Regions from separate parts of the Homo sapiens genome. Here all the other regions are linked to region 2. Evidence: fine-mapped expression QTL. A gene starts in region 2. Each other region holds a variant in brackets. All regions are shown on one strand. Distances are between the middles of the regions.

What was found. PIP is the estimated chance that this variant, and not a neighbour inherited with it, causes the effect.
Region 1: its variant is fine-mapped to the expression of CCDC6 in tibial artery (GTEx, PIP 0.97).
Region 3: its variant is fine-mapped to the expression of CCDC6 in blood mononuclear cells (TOPMed, PIP above 0.99).

What each region holds. Positions count from the first base shown.
Region 1 is chr10:59,868,336-59,874,571 of GRCh38, forward strand. All of the region lies in intron 1 of CCDC6 (coiled-coil domain containing 6), which reads right to left. Among named protein-coding and RNA genes, the nearest start is that of CCDC6, 35 kb to the right of the region's middle. RefSeq lists an enhancer at 4,656-4,950. The variant T/C (reference allele first, on the strand shown) is at 2,846.
Region 2 is chr10:59,903,660-59,908,659 of GRCh38, forward strand. CCDC6 (coiled-coil domain containing 6) reads right to left here and starts at 2,897. Exons shown (of 9, transcript NM_005436.5): 1 at 2,463-2,897. The coding sequence starts at 2,765. RefSeq lists enhancers at 1,610-1,839, 4,532-5,000 and silencers at 2,360-2,639, 2,670-3,009, 3,192-3,486.
Region 3 is chr10:59,783,604-59,791,418 of GRCh38, forward strand. It overlaps CCDC6 (coiled-coil domain containing 6), which reads right to left. Exons shown (of 9, transcript NM_005436.5): 9 at 5,144-7,815. Among named protein-coding and RNA genes, the nearest start is that of MRLN, 34 kb to the left of the region's middle. RefSeq lists an enhancer at 6,329-6,830. The variant C/A (reference allele first, on the strand shown) is at 5,854.

The sequences.
Region 1 (6,236 bases), 35 kb before region 2:
CTGTTTTCCTGCCAAGCCCACCACCACTGGACCGTGTGATTTTCCTGCCCAGCCCACCACCACTGGGCCATGCAGATACGTTGTCCAGCCCGCCGCCACTAGACCGTTCCTGTGATTAAGGTGGTTCTTCTATTCAGCTCACTGCCACTGGACACTCTTCCCTGGATGAAAGCCTCTAATAAAACCCCACATCTCATTTGCTGGCTCCAGGTCTCTTATTTGGCCTTTTGAACCTGGTGCCCTCCCTACTGAGGTTGATAGGGGTTTGGCATGACAACTCTAATTTAACTTTATTCTTCACGCTTTCCTCCCCTTCTCTTTCATGGCTCACTGTGCCTAAGCGTTACAAACAATATGGTTTATGATGAACACCTGCTTTCCTTTGAGATTCTGGAACTTTGGTACATGCTAAGCAGAGCCAGCCCCCAGTAAAAACCCTCGGCTCCAATGAGCTTCCCTGGTAGATGACACTTCACACGTGTGGTTACAATGCCACATTGGGGGAATTAAGCACATCCTGTGTGACTCTACTGGGAGAGGACTCTTGGAAGCTATGCTTGGTTTCCTCTGGACTTTGTCCCATGCACCTCTTTCTTATGCCAATTTTGCTTTGCGGCCTTTTGTTCTAATACATCTTAGCCATGAGTATTACTAGATACTGAGTCCTGAGTCTTTCTAGCAAATCACCAAACCTGAGGGTGGTCCTGGGGACTCCTGACACACCCTATATCTAAAAAGAATGCCTTTAACCTGTCTTTCAAAAGCCAATGGGAGCCATAGGAAAGAGCACACTTCATCCCTACCACGCCCTAATGATCTCAGTGTAGTGCTATAAACTATAGCCCAAAGTCTTCCAGTTAAGTGCAACTTTACTAAGAGGGACATGAGAGCACTTAGCCAGAAAAGCCTCCCTCAGATCTCCAGACTTAACCAACTGCCAACCTGTCGTCACCACCTGGACAGCATATAGGCACCTCCAACATAATCGACCCCAAACACCTCTCTGGATTCCTTCCCCTCTGTCCTAAGCAGTGAGACATGGACTTGCTCAGGCAAAAAAAAAAAAAAAAAAAAAAAAAAAAAACAGAAAAAAGAAAAAAAAAAAACAGAAACAAAAACAAACAAACAAAAAAACCAGCAAGAAGTAAGCCTTGGTTTTCTTTCCCTCACTACCCTTGTGCCTATTTAGCCCATCAGAAAGTCCTGTTTCTAATGGAAATAAATCTTGAATGTCTTTCTGGCCTTCTCATTGCCTTTGCTCCAGCCACTATCATTCCTCATCAGGCTTACAACAGCCGCCTACCTGGCCCTGCTGATCCTTCCACTCTTGTGCTCATACAACCCGTGCTCATTCTGCACACCCACAGTTTTAGAGATGGAAAACTGACCACTTTGTTACCCTGCTCAAACCCTCCAAAGGCTTCCCATCACACTAAGAAATAGTGATTCCTTGCCCTGGATCATCTACCGGCCCTCCCGTGGTCCAGCCTCTGCCTGCCTCTTGCCCCGACACCCACGACACTCCAGCCACTCCAGCATATCTGTTCCCACACATGCCACACTCATGATCCCTGTTGTGGTATCCAGGTACTAGCTAGATTCTCTGCCCCATAGCAGGCTGGCTACCTGTCATCTCAGATCCCCCTGAAGAGGCTGTCTCAGCCATCAAACCTAAAGAGCCCTCACCACCATTCACCACCCCATTACACTACCTTCTTTCCATCGAGGATGTATCTTGCCTACTGCCACAGAGATATCTTTTTACTGTTTGTCACCCCCACCAGAATGTAGGCTTATGAGCACAATCAGGGCCACTGGTGACTTCAGAACCTACAATTGTGCCTGGCATATGGCAAGTACTCCGATACTGGTTAACATATGGGCAACTCATTGAGACGTGGAAAAAGGCTTCTCTTAAACTCAACCTTTTCTCCCCACCCGCCTCTGCTGGTTAACTGAAGTTCAAAGCACTGAGTCAAGTTCTCATGACAGAAAAAATAAGGTACTATCACTGCTCTTGGAGGAGCTCAGAGTCTAGTAGTTCCAGATCCATCACCACTTTTCACACCCCCACATCCACTTGCACAGATGCCACTGATACCAAAACACAGCACTATACTTGGTAGCTCTAACTCTTCCATCCTGTCACCACTGTTGGATCATGAATAGAGCTGCAGTGGATGGTACGTGAGTGACCCCCAGCATTAACTTTCTTCATCCTCTTTTTGAAAAGAGGACTCTCCTACAATCTAGAGGACCACCCAGCTAGATTACATATCCCAGACTCCTGGACAGGTAGGTGGGGCTATGGGGCTAATTTCTGACAAACAGGAGATGGATGGAAGTGGTATGCAACTTTGGAGTCATAGCTTTTAAAAAGAAGCAGTTATCCATGCTGCTTCCCACTTTTCACAGGCTGGAATCGAACTAGAAGTTATAAGGCAGGTCCCACCACAATGGCAAGGCTAACATCCCGCAAGATGGTACAGCTATGAAATAGGAAGACCCCAGTGAACAACCTCATGGAGGAGTCAACCACCAGCCCGGGACTATTAAATGAGAGCACCATGAACTGAGCAGCTGTATTTGGGGGTCTCCCCATCAGCAGTTTAGCCTCTGCCATACACAATTCCTGAAATGAAAACTCATCAGTATGAGAGGAGAGTCAGTCAGATCTATGTTTAGAAATGAAAAGCTCGCCTGAGATACAGTAAATTGGAGAGGCAAAATGCTAAAGACTATGCACATTATGATCCCATGAGTGAAGTTTTATTTAACAAGAATATATAAATAAAATGCTTTCATGTATTATACATGAGGAGAGTTTATATTATATAAACATGTA[T/C]AAGTATTATGTATATAATTGTAAATATTTTAAAAATTAATAGAACTGTGTCTAAGAAATGTTAACAGTGCCTCTGGAGTTGTTAAAGAGGCTAATCTGTCACACCACATTCGCAGAGCTAAGAACACCGCCTTGTATATACGAAGCACTCAAGTACGTAAAAATAAACATTCACCTTGTGTTTACATGTGTATACACGTACACACAAATCTCGGAGGGACTGCTTTGTAGGCAATGGATTCCCAAAGCTCAACATCAAGATTTCACTGGCATCACCTAATACTCATTAAAAAAAAAAAAAAAAAAAAAAAAAGTTGATGCACTACTGATGCCCAGACCCTTGCCCTGACAAACTGGGTCAGCTCTGAGGGATGGGGCCCCAAGGTTCCATTGAACAGTTTGGTTGGAGAGCCTGGAGCAGATAAAAAGATACAGCGCTAGCTAATCAGGAGACCTTAGCCCTCGTCCTGGTTTTGCTGTTAACTCTTAATTAACCTTGGCAAGCTACTTTCTTTCTTCAGCCTGCCTACATTTCCCCATCTGTAAAATGGGAGATAATATGAAGTCCTTTATGGCACAGCACACATCCTGCCTTGTGAGGGGGCAGGGGATCCACGCTGCTTTGAACAAAAATTCCCACTAAGTATTCCCCAAATTCAGTTGCTAATTGGCAAAAGAAAAAAAAATAGCACTCTGATTAAATATAAGGATACAAGTTCTCCTCCAAAAGTAAAAGGCTCCTCAAACAAGGGACTTAAAGGGAGGAAGAAGGGAAATGGATTACAGGAAACTAGAAAATTCTCAAGTATAAAGAAAATAAGGAGCCAATTATTAAAAGCACTGCTAATGTTATCCATCCCTTGTAACCTCTGTGCTTACACATTTTACAAAATTGGTTCACATTACACGCACACTGTATCCTCACTCCACTTACTAGATTTTAACTATCTCTATGATTAAATGTTCCTCCAATAATTTTTGATGTTGTAAACAACCTATCTCACTGATGTGCCAAAACCATCTCTCTACTGCCTGACATTCCTTCCAGTTGTTTCCAATGCTTCTGCCCTTTGAAGAATCGTTACAATGAACATGCTTGAACAGTCTGAGGCTGTGCTAGCTGGATGTTTCTTCCAGCAGATTCCCCAACCTTGGGTATCAGTATTCAGTTAAGATACGGAGACTTAAGCAAACAGCTGCCTACATTTGCAGCTACAAAGCTGTGTCTGTTTCCTGTGCTGTTGCAGGTAAGAAAATGGTAGCCAATTTACATCCTGTTCCTTGTCTCCTTGCTCGTGCGAAGGTGTCCAGGGGTTGGGCTTCTGAACTGACTTTCTATGGAAGCCAATTCCTCCGAAGAAGTAAAAGACACACTGCTTTAACTATAAGGCTGGCTTTGTGAGTTGGAGGTTATTGATGTATGAACATTTTCTAGTTTTCAGTGAGTAAAGAGGGACGGAAGGTTTAACCTCTAGCAAGGGGTTAACTTTCAGCATCAAGTTTCTATTCTAGTTGGACACAAGGATTTCATGGTCAAACTACATCTCACCACCTTGATACCTGGGGCTGCATCCAGTCAAAGAGGATAACTTTCCAGATGGGGGGGTGGGGGAAGGTAACAACATTAGAAAGTGCATAAGCAGTAACTCTTCCCTGCTAGAACTTCTAAGAAATATTGCTAAGCTGTCATTAGGAATTAAGGTGAAAATCTAGCACAGGTCCTCGATCCTTTAAACACAATTCCAAAACCCAGAAGACTGAAAACCGAAAGCTACATTTGGCAAGCAACCAAACAACTGCGTTCACTTGGTGGCAAGCCTGATCTGAATTGACATGAGGCTCTTTGCAGCTTTATCATCAAACTTAGCATGCCTGTTCACATGTTTTGCTGAGGTGGTTTGATGTGTCTGCTGTTTCAATCCTCTGGCGGTGCTACAGTATACGTGGTAGGTGCTCAGTACCTTTCCATAGCTCCACTCCCTTTTATGGGATGGACTGTGTCCTTGAAAAAGATATGTTCAATTCCTAACCCCACATACTTGTGAATGTGACCTTATTTGGAAATAGGTTCTTTGCAGATGTAATCAAGCTAAGATGAGATCACTGGAGTGGGCCCCAATCCAATACGACTGCTGTCCTTATAAGAAGGGAAAATACAGACAGAAACATACAAGGAGAAGATGACCACATGACTTCAGAGGCAGGAACTGAAGTGCTGCAGCTGCAAGCCAAGGAACGCCTGGAGATACTAGAAACTAGAAGAATCACAGAAGGATCTTCCCCGGCCAGAGGTTTCCAAGGGAGAACAACCCTTACCAACACCTTGATTTTGGACTTCTGGCCCCTCCAGAACTGTGAGAAAATTAATTTCTATTGTTTTATGCCACTCAGTCTGTGAAACATTGTTACAACAGCCTTGGGAAACAAACAGACCCAACTCCCACCACCAAAAAAACCTAAATTCTAAAACATATCTGGCCTCATGGGATAAGAGACTGTGGAGCTATATTTTAATATTTAGTATTTTAATATGCCACTTTATTCTGAATATTTCAAAGTAAATGCAGGTTTTTCAATCTTGGTTTCTGACAATGGTATTTACCTAAATTTGTGATGATTTTGTAATAGACTGCTAATTTTTAAAAAAAAAGAAGGACAGAGAACACATATGTAGCTTTTAAAATTATCAAAACAGAATAGTTAAAACAATCCAAGTACATCTTAAATCTTCTATATGAGAATGAATGTTCCCCATTCCTATGATGTTGAGGCAGTAGCACATTTAGACACAATACAGCTGTCAAAATCCCAAATGCTGCAAAATCAACCATGGTCAGTGAAGATCTATGACATCTAATACTGAAAGAAAACGAAGTGAAAGAATGGTGAAGCATGTCCGAAGCGTAGACATTCATTTCCTTACACATTTACCTAGCAAACACACACACACACACACACACACACGCACACACCCCTACATAGATTCCATATGCCAGAAGGCACAGGGAATATAATAAAACTATAATGAGACAGGACCTTACACTCTAACAGGAATGTAACAAAGGCACAAATTGATCTTCTCCCAGTTCTAAAATGTTTTCTTTGGCACTAAACTTGCCTTTTGTTCTCCTATCCAACCAAGACTAGAGTTTCTGTAATTTTATCATTTTTATCAAACATATTAAAATTATCACATTGAAATCCTCCGTTTACAGAAAGGTGGTTCATGGATTAACCAAAGATATACAGAGATCAATATACAAAGATATTCACAGAAATGCCATCCATACCAATGCAAACAACCAATTCACTAACAATACTCCTATTCTGCCAGTGAAGGCAGAATGCTCCCTCCTGCAAACTTTGCCTCAAGCTGTCTACATTTGAATCC
Region 2 (5,000 bases):
GTACCATCTTCCCTTCAAATTAACTAAAATAGTGAAAAATCTAACAAGGCCTTCACTTAATTATCAGAAACTTCCTAGCCTGCCACTAGCAAGGGTAATGCTTAAGTCAGCGATGTCAGGGATTGTACAGCTTAACCTTGACATAAACTACTTAAGTGTTGTTCAATGGACTCTACATTCACAGGCCCATTTCATGGAGTCACATAAATTTCTCCTCCCGCATTACATACCTGAGAGGTCAAACGTACCACCACAGAATCTGGATCCTAGGTCAGTTAACAAAACCTGCAAAATCTTGAAGGAATCTGTTTTCTGCATTTATCATTCAGCTCCTTAGTAACAACTGCCAAGTATTAGGAAACCAGGCGAACCACAAGCACTTTTTTATGTGTCTCCCTGAATATATTAGTCAGAAATTAAAGAAGAACTGAGAGGCTTCTGGTACTTGTGCAGTGTCATCTAAAACAATGTTAACTTTACTCATTAACACCACACGACATTTCACAAAGTATATTCGGTTGGATGTCAGTGTAGTTAAGGGTAAGTGCTAAGAAAGCAAGCCACCACCTTATACGCTCTTCTAGCCAAGTACTCAGAAGGCCTCTGATCTTAAACACCGGGAATGAACACATTTGTTCCTGCAAAGCCAACATGTTTAAGCACAATTTACAAACCTAGTTATAATACGGTCTAAGTGTCAAACAGATAACCCTTTCATAGTCTCTGCATCCCTCATTCCTCCCTCCCAAACAAAACCAGCCTGAATTGCCCACTGCATGCAAAAGGCTATTTTGCTTCATGCAAGTCTTACTACTTTCCATGGCTCACAGTCTCCAAGAGACTAACCCTCTCATTTACTAACTCAAACCTTAAACTGCCTCCAACAACTTCCCTCTCTTCTTAACCCCCACTCAGCAAAGACATCTCTGTCAGCGAAGAAAGCTGCATAGGAGGCTTGGAAGTGGCTGCCTCTGCAAATTCCCCGCCCCCCACCTTCCTACCAAAAGGGCACTTCAAGAACTTTACCATCTCACATGAAAGTTGCTCCAATTCCATTCTCCAAAATTGGATTTGAGCATGAAAAGTTTCTTTTTACAATCAACTGCTATTTAGGCTACTGATCACACTTAACTTGCAACTTGCTTTCTACACAAATTAAGAATGCCATCTAGTTCTCATGTATGAGCCAGCACTGGGGGTGTACACACGCGTGCGCACACATATACACAGCCTCCTCCACCGAAGGCATTTCCTGGCACAAGGGGCATCCTAAACTTGCTCCATTTCCAAGGTGTGACCCTCTATCCCCAAATTCATCCCTTTTTCTTCATTTCAAAGTTCAGCCTAATCCGCTATTTTGCAGCAGCTATGGCCATTTATCCCCCTTGATTTCTTGACATCATCTTCTCTGCTTCTGGCTGGGGAACTTTTGATTTGAATACAGTTGTCTGTGTGGGGATCCTTCATGTTAATGATGTGGTGAGCTGGCAGGGATGATAGGTGAGAGTACACAGTGTACTTTTTCTAGTTACGTTTCGCCTCATCACTGCTATAGGGGCCTTTCTAAACGCCTGCCACACCAGGAGAGAGACCTACAGACCCAAGCTTACCCGTTTCTGGGCAGCCTCCAGGGGACAGGTAGAAACAGAACAGATGGCCTGTTCTCCAGTATCTAGACTCAGAAGCAAGATACTTCTAACCACTCCACGAATGAAGCAAACACACGTACCTCTGGCTCAGCCAGGGAGTCACAGTCACTACCCTTCCCCTGGTTTCGGCCCCAGCCCTGTCCAGGCGTGGATGCTGCACTCTCCTCGCTGTAAACCGTCCACCCTCCCAACCCAAAGCAAAGAGCTTCCAACAGAGGTGGGAGCATTAGCGCCGTACCCGCCCTTCCCTCTCGATCCCGGCCAGAAAACTCCACTTCCCGGATTCCCGGCCACTCTCTCCCGCCCCCTCCCCGGGCGATCCAGCTAGCGCAGTCCAGATGCCAGCTTAGTGCCCAGTCCAGCTGCGAACCCCCACACTCCGAGCCAGGACCCAGTAAGAGATCCCAGCTTCCTCCCTCTTCCAGGACTGGGGTTCCCCAGATTCTGGACGCACCCCTCAAACATGCTAGGGCTGAAAAAAGTCCTACCCCGCCCCCCAGCCACGCCGCCAGCCTCCAGCCCAGCCCCGGAGGGGCCTCCTCTCCAGAGGCTAAAAGGGACCATGAATGGTTGCCACAGTAGCCTTCCCCCGCACCGCGCAAGGGTCCTCAGACCCCCGAGGAGGACAGACCCGCGTGGCCCCGAAGGGATACCTCCCTCTCCTCCCGGAAGCCAGCAGGTCCCCGCAGGGAGTGTGCTCTCAGAGGGTCCCCGGGAATCTGGGGAAGACTTGGGGGGTGGCTGGATTCGGGTGCAGCCCCTCCCGGGGCGGGCGGAGGTCGGCGCTGCGGCGCGTCCCCGGGGGGCACTCACGATGGTCACGCTGGCTTTGCGCAGGTCGCGGTTCTCCTCCTGCAGTGCCTTGCACTTCAGTTTGTAGGTCTCCAGCTCTATCTTCAGCACCTTGTTCTCTTGCTGCAGCGAGGCCAGGCGGTTGGTGAGCTCCTCCAGGCGGAACGGCGAGATGACAATGCCCCCCGACTTCCCACCGCCGCCGCCTCCCCCGCCGCCACCGCCGCCGCCCGAGGTCGACGAGCAGGACGACTGCATGGCGGCCGAGCTGCTGCTGTTGCCCCCCGCCCCGTCCGTGTCGCTCTCGCTGGCGCTGTCCGCCATGGCCGCGGCGGGCTGGGGAAAGGAGGAGGAGCAGCAGGGAGGCGGCGGCGACGAAGGCCGGGCTGCGAATGAGTGGGCGCCGGGCGAGCACAGGGGAGCGCCGAGCTGAGCGCCTGGCACCAGGGCGCAGACTCGGAGCGGCGGCGAGAGAAAGAGAGGGCGCTTCCCGCTGCCAAGGGACCTCCTCTGCCAGAGAACAGAGACCCCGCCCGGGCTTGGGCAGTATTGCACTGGGGCTCGCTCCAGCCGGGCTGGGCGCGCTCCCTAGGCCGCCCAGCAAAGCTGGCTGAAAGCTCCGGGACCCGCCCGCCGCCGTCTGGTGACCACGGGCGGGCTGGGAACGCGCAGGCACTGCGGGTGCGGGAAAGCCAAGGACTGCCCCCGCACCACCAGCTCGCCAGCCACACGTGTTCCAAGGGAGGGCCTCCGAGCCCCCTGATCTAAGCCCACGGCCGCCCAGCCTCTTCCGGGCTCGCGCCCGCCCCGAGAAAAAGGAAACCTGATGCCCCACCAGCCTCGCAGGTGCCGGGGACACGTGGAAAGGTCAGCCGGGCTCCGGCACCCATCCTCTACCGTGTTGTGGCCCCATCTTCCGCCGACTGTGTGTGCGCGTGTCTCCCTCTATCTGTTTCACACATACACGCAGTTTTATATTCTCAAAAGCAAGGTGTTTTTGACTAGGAAGGCTTGGATAAACCTAAGAGAACAAAGTTCCTCTACAAGAGGCCGAGGAGGATGAAACAACAGCAGCCACAGGTTAACCTTGTTAAGTAAGAATTTGCAGGAGAGACACACATCTCCTTTAATAACCTCATAAACCACACTGCGCTCAATTGTTTAAACAAGGTGCAACTGTTTTTTTCTTTTTCTCTTTGCATTTTGCAAACATTTCCAGCACATGTCTCGTAGTAGGATTAAGACAGTAACATTTACCTAATGAAGAAAAAAAAAAAGGAAGGCGAAACACTTTTAGTAGAAGATTGAAACACCTCTTTAAGTGCCAATTTTCCAAAGTAACTGCGGACATAACATTATGCTATACAAATAGTAATGATTGAGTGGGAGTGCAACATCACCCGTCTTTGCTATCCTCTTGCTCACTCCTAGAAAACTTTAGCATGTAAAAATAAAACAGTAATTACTGTAATGCGGTCTAATTCATGGTTCTAGCTTTGCAGTTTAAGAAATTAAAAATCAAAAACTTTTATTCCCCCTTCCTCTTCCCAAAGAAAGGCTTGCAGGAAATTGGCCCAGCAGGTGAGATGATTCTAAACACTTTGCCCTGTTGACACAAAACAGCTTTCACTTATGTATAAAAATTGGAAAGTGAAACTGACCAGACTAGTTTTATTACCCACGCTTAGTTAACATTACAACAAACACATGGTAATAGAAAATAGAAAAAAAAGTGTAATTTTTTTTTCTGTTGGGTTGAACTTTCTGAAAGATTTCTAAAGTGTTAGGAAGAAAGAAGAATGATTCTTATTCCCACTCCCTCATTATCTTTAAACCTAAATTTGATCTCATGATTAAACGGTGATTCAATGGCTCTTGGAAACTGGCACCTCAGAATAAACTCGAAAACACCAAGTGTTCCAAATGACATCATCTTTCACCAAGATGGCTGCTTTTAGCAAACAGCTTAAATGCCAACAGCAACTAAACCCCAGTTTCTCCCAGGTATTTTTTAGCTTAGTGCTGGAGGGCTTCTGAACTCTGTCACTGTTTGTATAGCAGGAGGGAGGAAATGCTTGGCTTTGCTCTTGAGAAACATATAGGCAATCTAAATCATTCTGTTACAAGTGATCCAGTTTAATTTGCACTGAAACTTAGTTCTCTCACTTTTTTGGGATCTAGTACATGAGACAATGAGTTAAATTGGAAACGGATTCTGGAAAGCTCACTTGAGGGTTGAAATGGAAGAGTAAAGCTAGCAGGGAGAAGCACCACAGGGGGAAACAGATTTAACAACATTCTTTCCCCTTTATTCAGCACTGTGATCGAATCTTAAGAGTAGGTCTGGCTGCCATACCTCACAAGTTTCTATTGCTCCCTATTCCATATTATCTTAAAGCTTCCACTTTTAGAGCTTATTGCAACAGGAACATTCCTTCCAGGCAGAGCAGGGGGCAAATTAACTCTCTCTTAGCGTCACCACAAAACTAACCGCCTTGGAAAGGCGGACTCACACTGCTTCAAGTCAGCAGAGGGGTGGAGTTTGAAGCGCCTGGTTTT
Region 3 (7,815 bases), 120 kb before region 2:
AAATTATCTTGGGCAGTATGGCCATTTTCACGATATTGATTCTTCCTACCCATGAGCATGGAATGTTCTTCCATTTGTTTGTATCCTCTTTTATTTCCTTGAGCAGTGGTTTGTAGTTGTCCTTGAAGAGGTCCTTCACATCCCTTGTAAGTTGGATTCCTAGGTATTTTATTCTCTTTGAAGCAATTGTGAATGGGAGTTCACTCATGATTTGGCTCTCTGTTTGTCTGTTGTTGGTGTATAATAATGCTTGTGATTTTTGTACATTGATTTTGTATCCTGAGACTTTGCTGAAGTTGCTTATCAGCTTAAGGAGATTTTGGGCTGAGACAATAGGGTTTTCTAGATATACAATCATGTCGTCTGCAAACAGGGACAATTTGACTTCCTCTTTTCCTAATTGAATACCCTTTATTTCCTTCTCCTGCCTAATTGCCCTGGCCAGAACTTCCAACACTATGTTGAATAGGAGTGGTGAGAGAGGGCATCCCTGTCTTGTGCCAGTTTTCAAAGGGAATGCTTCCAGTTTTTGCCCATTCAGTATGATATTGGCTGTGGGTTTGTCATAGCTAGCTCTTATTATTTTGAAACACGTCCCATCAATACCTAATTTATTGAGAGTTTTTACGATGAAGAGTTGTTGAATTTTGTCAAAGGCCTCTTCTGCATCTATTGAGATAATCATGTGGTTTTTGTCTTTGGCTCTGTTTATATGCTGGATTACATTTATTGATTTGCATATATTGAACCCGCCTTGCCTCCCAGGGATGAAGGCCACTTGATACCATTTGACCCAGCCATCCCATTACTGGGTATATACCCAAAGGACTATAAATCACGCTGCTATAAAGACACATGCACACGTATATTTATTGCGGCATTATTCACAATAGCAAAGACTTGGAACCAACCCAAATGTCCAACAATGATAGACTGGATTAAGAAAATGTGGCACATATACACCATGGAATACTATGCAGCCATAAAAAATGATGAGTTCATGTCCTTTGTAGGGACATGGATGAAATTGGAAATCATCATTCTCAGTAAACAATCGCAAGAACAAAAAACCAAACACCGCATATTCTCACTCACAGGTAGGAATTGAACAATGAGATCACATGGACACAGGAAGGGGAATATCACACTCTGGGGACTGTAGTGGGGTGGGGGGAGGGGGGAGGGATAGCATTCGGAGATATACCTAATGCTAGATGACGAGTTAGTGGGTGCAGCGCACCAGCATGGCACATGTATACATATGTAACTAACCTGCACACTGTGCACATGTACCCTAAAACTTAAAGTATAATAAAAAAAAAAAGAGTATTTGTAGAATGAATGAAATGATATTGGAAATAGTGAAGTTACAATACAAAAAAAGAACCTTATAGTCTCTAAAGTTTTAACACTAATATGTTCATTTGATCCTAAAGACACCATTTTCATTCCTCTTTTATAGATGAGGAAATAGAAGCTTAAAAATTGCACTTAGACCAGACTTGAACTCACAGGACTCTTTCTACAGCACCTGGCTACCTTAAGCCTTGAGGCTTCATGCCCAACACTAATGTGATGAATTTGGGTAGTAAGTCCCCAGGATTAATAATTTCCCAATAGTGGTCTACCAGAACACAGGCAAAGCTCCCCTGGTGAAAGAAAAGTAGATCACAGGCTTAACTCGAATTTAAACAGTTCTCTGCCCCACCACAACCCCAATTTTTTTATTATACTTTAAGTTTTAGGGTACATGTGCACAATGTGCAGGCTAGTTACGTGTGTATACATGTGCCATGTTGGTGTGCTGCACCCATTAACTCATCATTTAACATTAGGTATATCTCCTAATGCTATCCCTCCCCCTTCCCCCCACCCCACAACAGGCCCCGGTGTGTGATGTTCCCCTTCCTGTGTCCATGTGTTCTCATTGTTCAATTCCCACCTATGAGTGAGAACATGCGGTGTTTGGTTTTTTGTCCTTGCGATAGTTTGCTGAGAATGATGGTTTCCAGCTTCATGCATGTTCCTACAAAGGACATGAACTCATCATTTTTTATGGCTGCATAGTATTCCATGGTGTATATGTGACACACTTTCTTAATCCAGTCTATCATTGCCCAACTTTTCTTTAGAGACAGGGTCTCACTCTGTTCCCCAGGCTGGAATGCAGTGGCATGATCATAGTTCACTGCAGCCTAAAACTCCTGGGCTCAGGCAATCCTCCCACCTCAGCCTCCTGAGTAGCTAGAAAAACAGGCATGCACCACCATGCCTGGCTAATTTTTAATTTTTGGTAGAGATGGGGGTCTCACTATGTTGATCAGGCTGGTCTCAAACTCCTGGCTTCAAGCAATCCTCCTGCCTTGGCTGGAAGGATTGTTGGGATTACAGGTGTGAGCCACTGTGCCAGTGCCCGACCAGCAGGGGTGCCTTTTAATGTTTCTCAGGTACATTCAAAGAGCACAAACATAAATCCACAAAAGACTTAAAACAAGTTTTTATTGTTTTAAATTTCAGAAATTGTATTTTTTATCTTTAAAGATCAACTTAGGTTTTATTTTCAATTTTTCTGACCATGCTTATACTTCGCTGTCTTCTTGAACACATGGAGAACGTTTATAAGTCTCTGTTTTCACATCCTTGTCTGTTAATTCTATCATTGTTTCCCTGAGAGAAAAACATCTGTTTTTCTGAGTCTGACTTTCCCTTTTTTGTTTTTAAGATGAAAAATTTAAGATTAATTACTAAGATCTCCTCTTGGGGTAATTAGTAATCTTGAAAGTTGCACTAAGTTATCAGTAGAGTATCAGAAAATAAGACCTTTGGAAAAAGATCTAAATATATTCAGCTCAATAGCACTCAATGCAATATGAAACCAGGGATGATACTGGACAGAAAACTTTAAGGAACAGGAATTCAATCCCTCATGTCAACATATGCATCAGACACAAACCATAATTTACCATGCACTGACTTCTTGTTTTTCTAAAGACAATGTTTAAAAGTTTGAGCTGAATTATATATTAGTGACAGAATTGCATTTCCACAAGTTTTTAATTTAAATAGCCTACATGTTAAAACAAGGACCTCTCAGATTTACTTAAGAGTTCTACATAAACACAAAAAATGTTCTAGACCAACCGTTTCAATTTTAGAGGCACCATGTGGACACATAGCCTTTAAAAGATATTAAAATTTTATAAAATACACATGCAGCTTAATCTTTACTTACTTGTTTTCAGAGCACTTTGTTTAAATAATTTTCTTCAAATTTGACCTGAAATAAGAACAGCTATCTCCACCAGTAGAAAACTGAGGCTAAGGCAGGACGAAGGTTAAGACTTGAATCCAGAGGTCCTGGGAAATTCCTTGGCTAATATTTTCACCAAGTTACAACTAAAATCCAGCTGCCACGGGTAGAGAGGAGTTTTGTCATTTGGTCATTTCAACCAAATTAAAAACTCATTGCTTTCACGAAGTTAAAATGGAATCCTGCTTAAGCCAGAGTCAGTCAAGATTCACTGAAGGTTTATTTACTTTTATATAGAAAACAGCCTAGATTTAAACAGTCTGCACTCATAAGATGGCATCACATCATGCCTGTAATCCCAATACTTTGGAAGGCCGAGGTGGGTGGGTCACCACCAGAGGTCAGGAGTCCGAGACCAGCCTGGCCAAGATGGCAAAACCCCGTCTCTACTAAAAATGCAAAAAATTAGCTGGGCGTGGTGGCAGGCACCTGTAATCCCAGCTACTGGGAAGGCTGAGGCAGGAGAATTGTTTGAACGCAGGAGGTGGGGAGGTTGCAGTGAGCCGAACTCCAGCCTGGGTGACAGAGAAAGACTCTGTCTCAAAAAAAAGAAAAAAAAAAAAAAACGACGGCATCACAAATGGGTTCTTGAAAACTATACTCCCAAGAGGATCCCACTGAGTACTGTGCATTTCTTCCACAGAATGTGGACTCTAACTACTATGGGCTTACGAAAATGCAACTGACAAACCATATACCCCCAAGCATGTGTAAAACATTACCCCAAATACTCATTCATTGGATGGATGTGGAAGAGACTAGTCCACGTCTGATTTTGTGTGTGAAGGACTATACTGTACCATCCATCAATTTTCTTATTTTAGCCAGGCACATAAATAACATTTTTATTTTACAGGTAAGGAACTTGAGTCCCAGAAAAGTTAAGTAACTATCCCAGGAAAATAATTGGTACTCAAACCTAGAATTGATCCCAAAGCCATGCTTCCAACAAAGTAGAGAAAAAAAACACCAAACAGGTGGATTGAAACTTTAAAGCTCACGAAACATCCCAAATGTGACATCCAAATCCTGTACATAAATATTTGTATGTAACATTTTGGAAATGGGCATGGTTTTCCTTTTCATAACCTCAGGTTTACTGCTTTAAACTGAAATACAACACAAATACAGAGCAGTGCACAAATCGTTAAGTGTACGGTTTCATGAATTTTCAAAACCTCAACACATCCAAGCAGCCAGCACTCTGATTAAGAAACAAAACTAGCCAGGCATGGTGGCTCACGCCTGTAATCCCAGCACTTTAAGAGGCTGAGGCAGGTGGATCACCTGAGGTCAGGAGTTTGAGACCGGCCTGGTCAATGTGGCAAAACCCCGTCTCTACTAAAAATACAAAAATTAACTTGTATTGGCGTGTTGGCACATACCTGTAGTCCCAGCTACTTGGGAGGCTGAAGCAGGATAATTGCTTGAACCCAGGAGGTGGAGGTTGCAGTGAGCCAAGATTGCACCACTGCACTCCAGCCTGGGTGGCAGAGTGAGACTCCGTCAAAAACAAATAAGCAAAACTATACCAGCCCTTTTCGTGCCATCATTCCTTATTTTTTTTTGGAGATGGGATCTTCCTTTGACACCCAGGCTGGAGTGCAATGGCGCAATCCTAGCTCACTACAGCCTCGAACTCTCAAGGCTCAAGTGATCCTCCCACCCCAGACTCCTGAGTAGCTGGGACTACAGGCTTGTGTCACTGCACCCAGTTGTTTAAATTTACTTTCTAAGGCAGCCTTTAGAGTTTACAATTTAAGTTAGATGTCTGTCAGAAGCAACAGAGAAACAATGTTTTATTCCCAAAAACCGAAATGAAAAAAGATAGGGTTTAAGGCTCAAGAGGTACATTTTAAAAAATTATCTTTATTTAGGTTTCTGATTCAGCACATGTATCAAAGACTAATCAACATAAAGGAGTAAATAAGACATTAATTGAAAGTCTTACATCTCTCTAAACTCTGACCAAGAATGTCAAGATTGCCACTATTACCAGAACTCCAACCTAGTCAAGTTGTAGACAAGCTATCATGAACAACATACAGTGTGCACAGATATGCAGAGGCAAAAGGCATGCTAGCGCTTGGCTCTCCTCTTTTCCTTGTTGACATCTTTCTGTTGGACAGTCCACTTTCGCTTTCCAGGCTAAGTTCCAAATCAAGTCCAAAGAAGGCTCAGGGGTCAACCTGACCAGATACTCTTCTGGAGGAATGCATTCTTAAACTGTTGTGCCTGCAACTTTGTTTTTGCCAGGATGAAGTTCAGACCGAGATGTACAATACAATCTAGATGACGGTGCAGACTAAGTCAAGAACTAAAGTTGTGCAGTAACCCGAGTTAAGGCATGAATGCAGACACACACATGCACACACACAGCACCCATGCTATCAAGACACAGGATTTTTTCAGTTGCCTCATGAGAGGCAACCTGGGCTTGGCAGTTAATCAGAACTGCTGAGCATTCCAGAAAATGCCCCCCACGACTTTATGCTAACAGCTGTGTGTATGTTTTAATCAAAAAATTAAAGAAGAAAAAAAAA[C/A]CCTAAAAAACAAAGAAAAAAACAAACAAAAAATCACCAAAAACCTAGAAACCCCTTAATCTCTTACAATGGCTCTTGAGCATGGAACTCATGTAGCAGCATCAATGGCTGGCTCTTTAACAATTTGGAAATAAAAGGTTGTTTTACTATGTATTTCTTTGGTAGTCATCACTACAAAGTTTTCAGTGTTGGTTACCTATAAGACAAGTACTAGACAGAAGATCAAGTTACACAGAAATATTTCTTCTGTACTGATAAGATACAAATATTGAGCTCTCAAAGCACAAGTTACTATGCTTTTTCTTGCCTTATTGGGCATTCTCTAAAAGCAAGGCTTTGTGCAGGAAAAGTTCATGTCTACCTAACAAAGGGTGATACATGTTCTATTTTCCTACAAGTGAACAATTAACAAAAATTCACATTATCAATTATTTCTGGTTGAATTCTGTTAGAAGCCAATTACAAAGGGACAGTAGCACTTGGTGTCAAAGCCACTTTCTGGTCACACATTCATTCCATGGTTGCTAGTCAGTATCTCAGGAGCTCAGAATTTAAAACTCCTTTCAGTCAACGAAGGAGTAAGTTCAATTAAAGGCTTCCACTATCTGCCAAATTTCTAGAATTCTGTCTAGAGTGCTAGCATGCTTGATGAGAGAAAGCAGTTCAGAGCCCAAAGAGGTGTCAGGTATTAGGTAAGTTAATTTGGTTTTGTATAAAAGGCATGGTAATCTGGCAACAGAGTACTTATCCTATTAGCAGCACAGTGGTAGCCAAGGGTCTCTGTCTGCAAGACAGGAAAATGAAGCTACTGAAGCCCCTGTTGCTCCCACCTGCCTGCAGGACGGCTACTGATTTTACAAAGGCCTTCTGGGAGCCAATCCAGGGCTCACCTGGGAGAGTGGGTAACAGAATGGCAGGAACCATGTTCAGCCCCCATGAGAAGTGCCCGACTGAGGGAAGTCAGCTTCCCATAGGTGAGGGGGCTGTTGCCATTATGGGCTCAGAATCTAAATCTTACTGATCCCTAGTAGTAAGACAATTGCCAAGAAATTGTCCTAGCAGGTACTACCCAAGTGTTACAGGCTCTGCATAGGTCCTCAAACACTTTAAAGGACACGAACCATCAAATTCAAAAGAGTAGTGTTTGTTCTATCAGTTCTGAATGTCCACAGGGAGAGGCAACTAGATTTATGTGGAAAAAGTGCTGTTTGAAGGAGCTGTGTTTTATTTCGAAGTGAAATGACTTTGGGAACCAGAACATTTCTGCAGATGTCTGAATATCAAGAACCTATCTCTAAAAGGCATTTATCAGGAAATGTTCGCTCACTCCAAGTGCTTTTTAAAAATTCAACATATGGCAATGTTTTAATTTTTGTGCTTTCAAGAGGTAACTAAATCGATAGGAAGCTGAGGGAAGATCATTCCATTATGGACTTTCTTGTTTGGGTGCAAGACACTATCCACAGCATTGAAATCTATAATCTCATAAAAGATTCTTATAAACATATACCATATTTCTCCTATAAGAAAAACTGAGAACTGTACCATGAAGGCAAAATTTGTTTGCCTACTCTCAGAATTCCTTGGAATGGCAATGTACCAGGAGGGTGAGTGAACTGTTGGTGAAAATTCCGGGTTTGACATGGCCCAGTCTGATCACATCAAAAACCTAAAGCCTCAATGATTAAATGCCAAACTTCTTCCCTGCATCTGAGAACTGTATTATGATTATGTATATTACACATACATTATAAATAAAATTTATATAGACCTACAGTTTCTTCCAAACAATTGAGTGATGTTCTCAGTTTGGGGGTGGAAGCAGGAAGAGGTGAAAAAATCTTATTGTTGCTTTTACTCTCAAGTTCTTAAAACGCTAGTCAAACACTATTATCCAACAAGACTTTTTTTTTTCATTCTGTTAACTCTTAAATATGCATTCGAAGGCAAAAATGGAGGTTT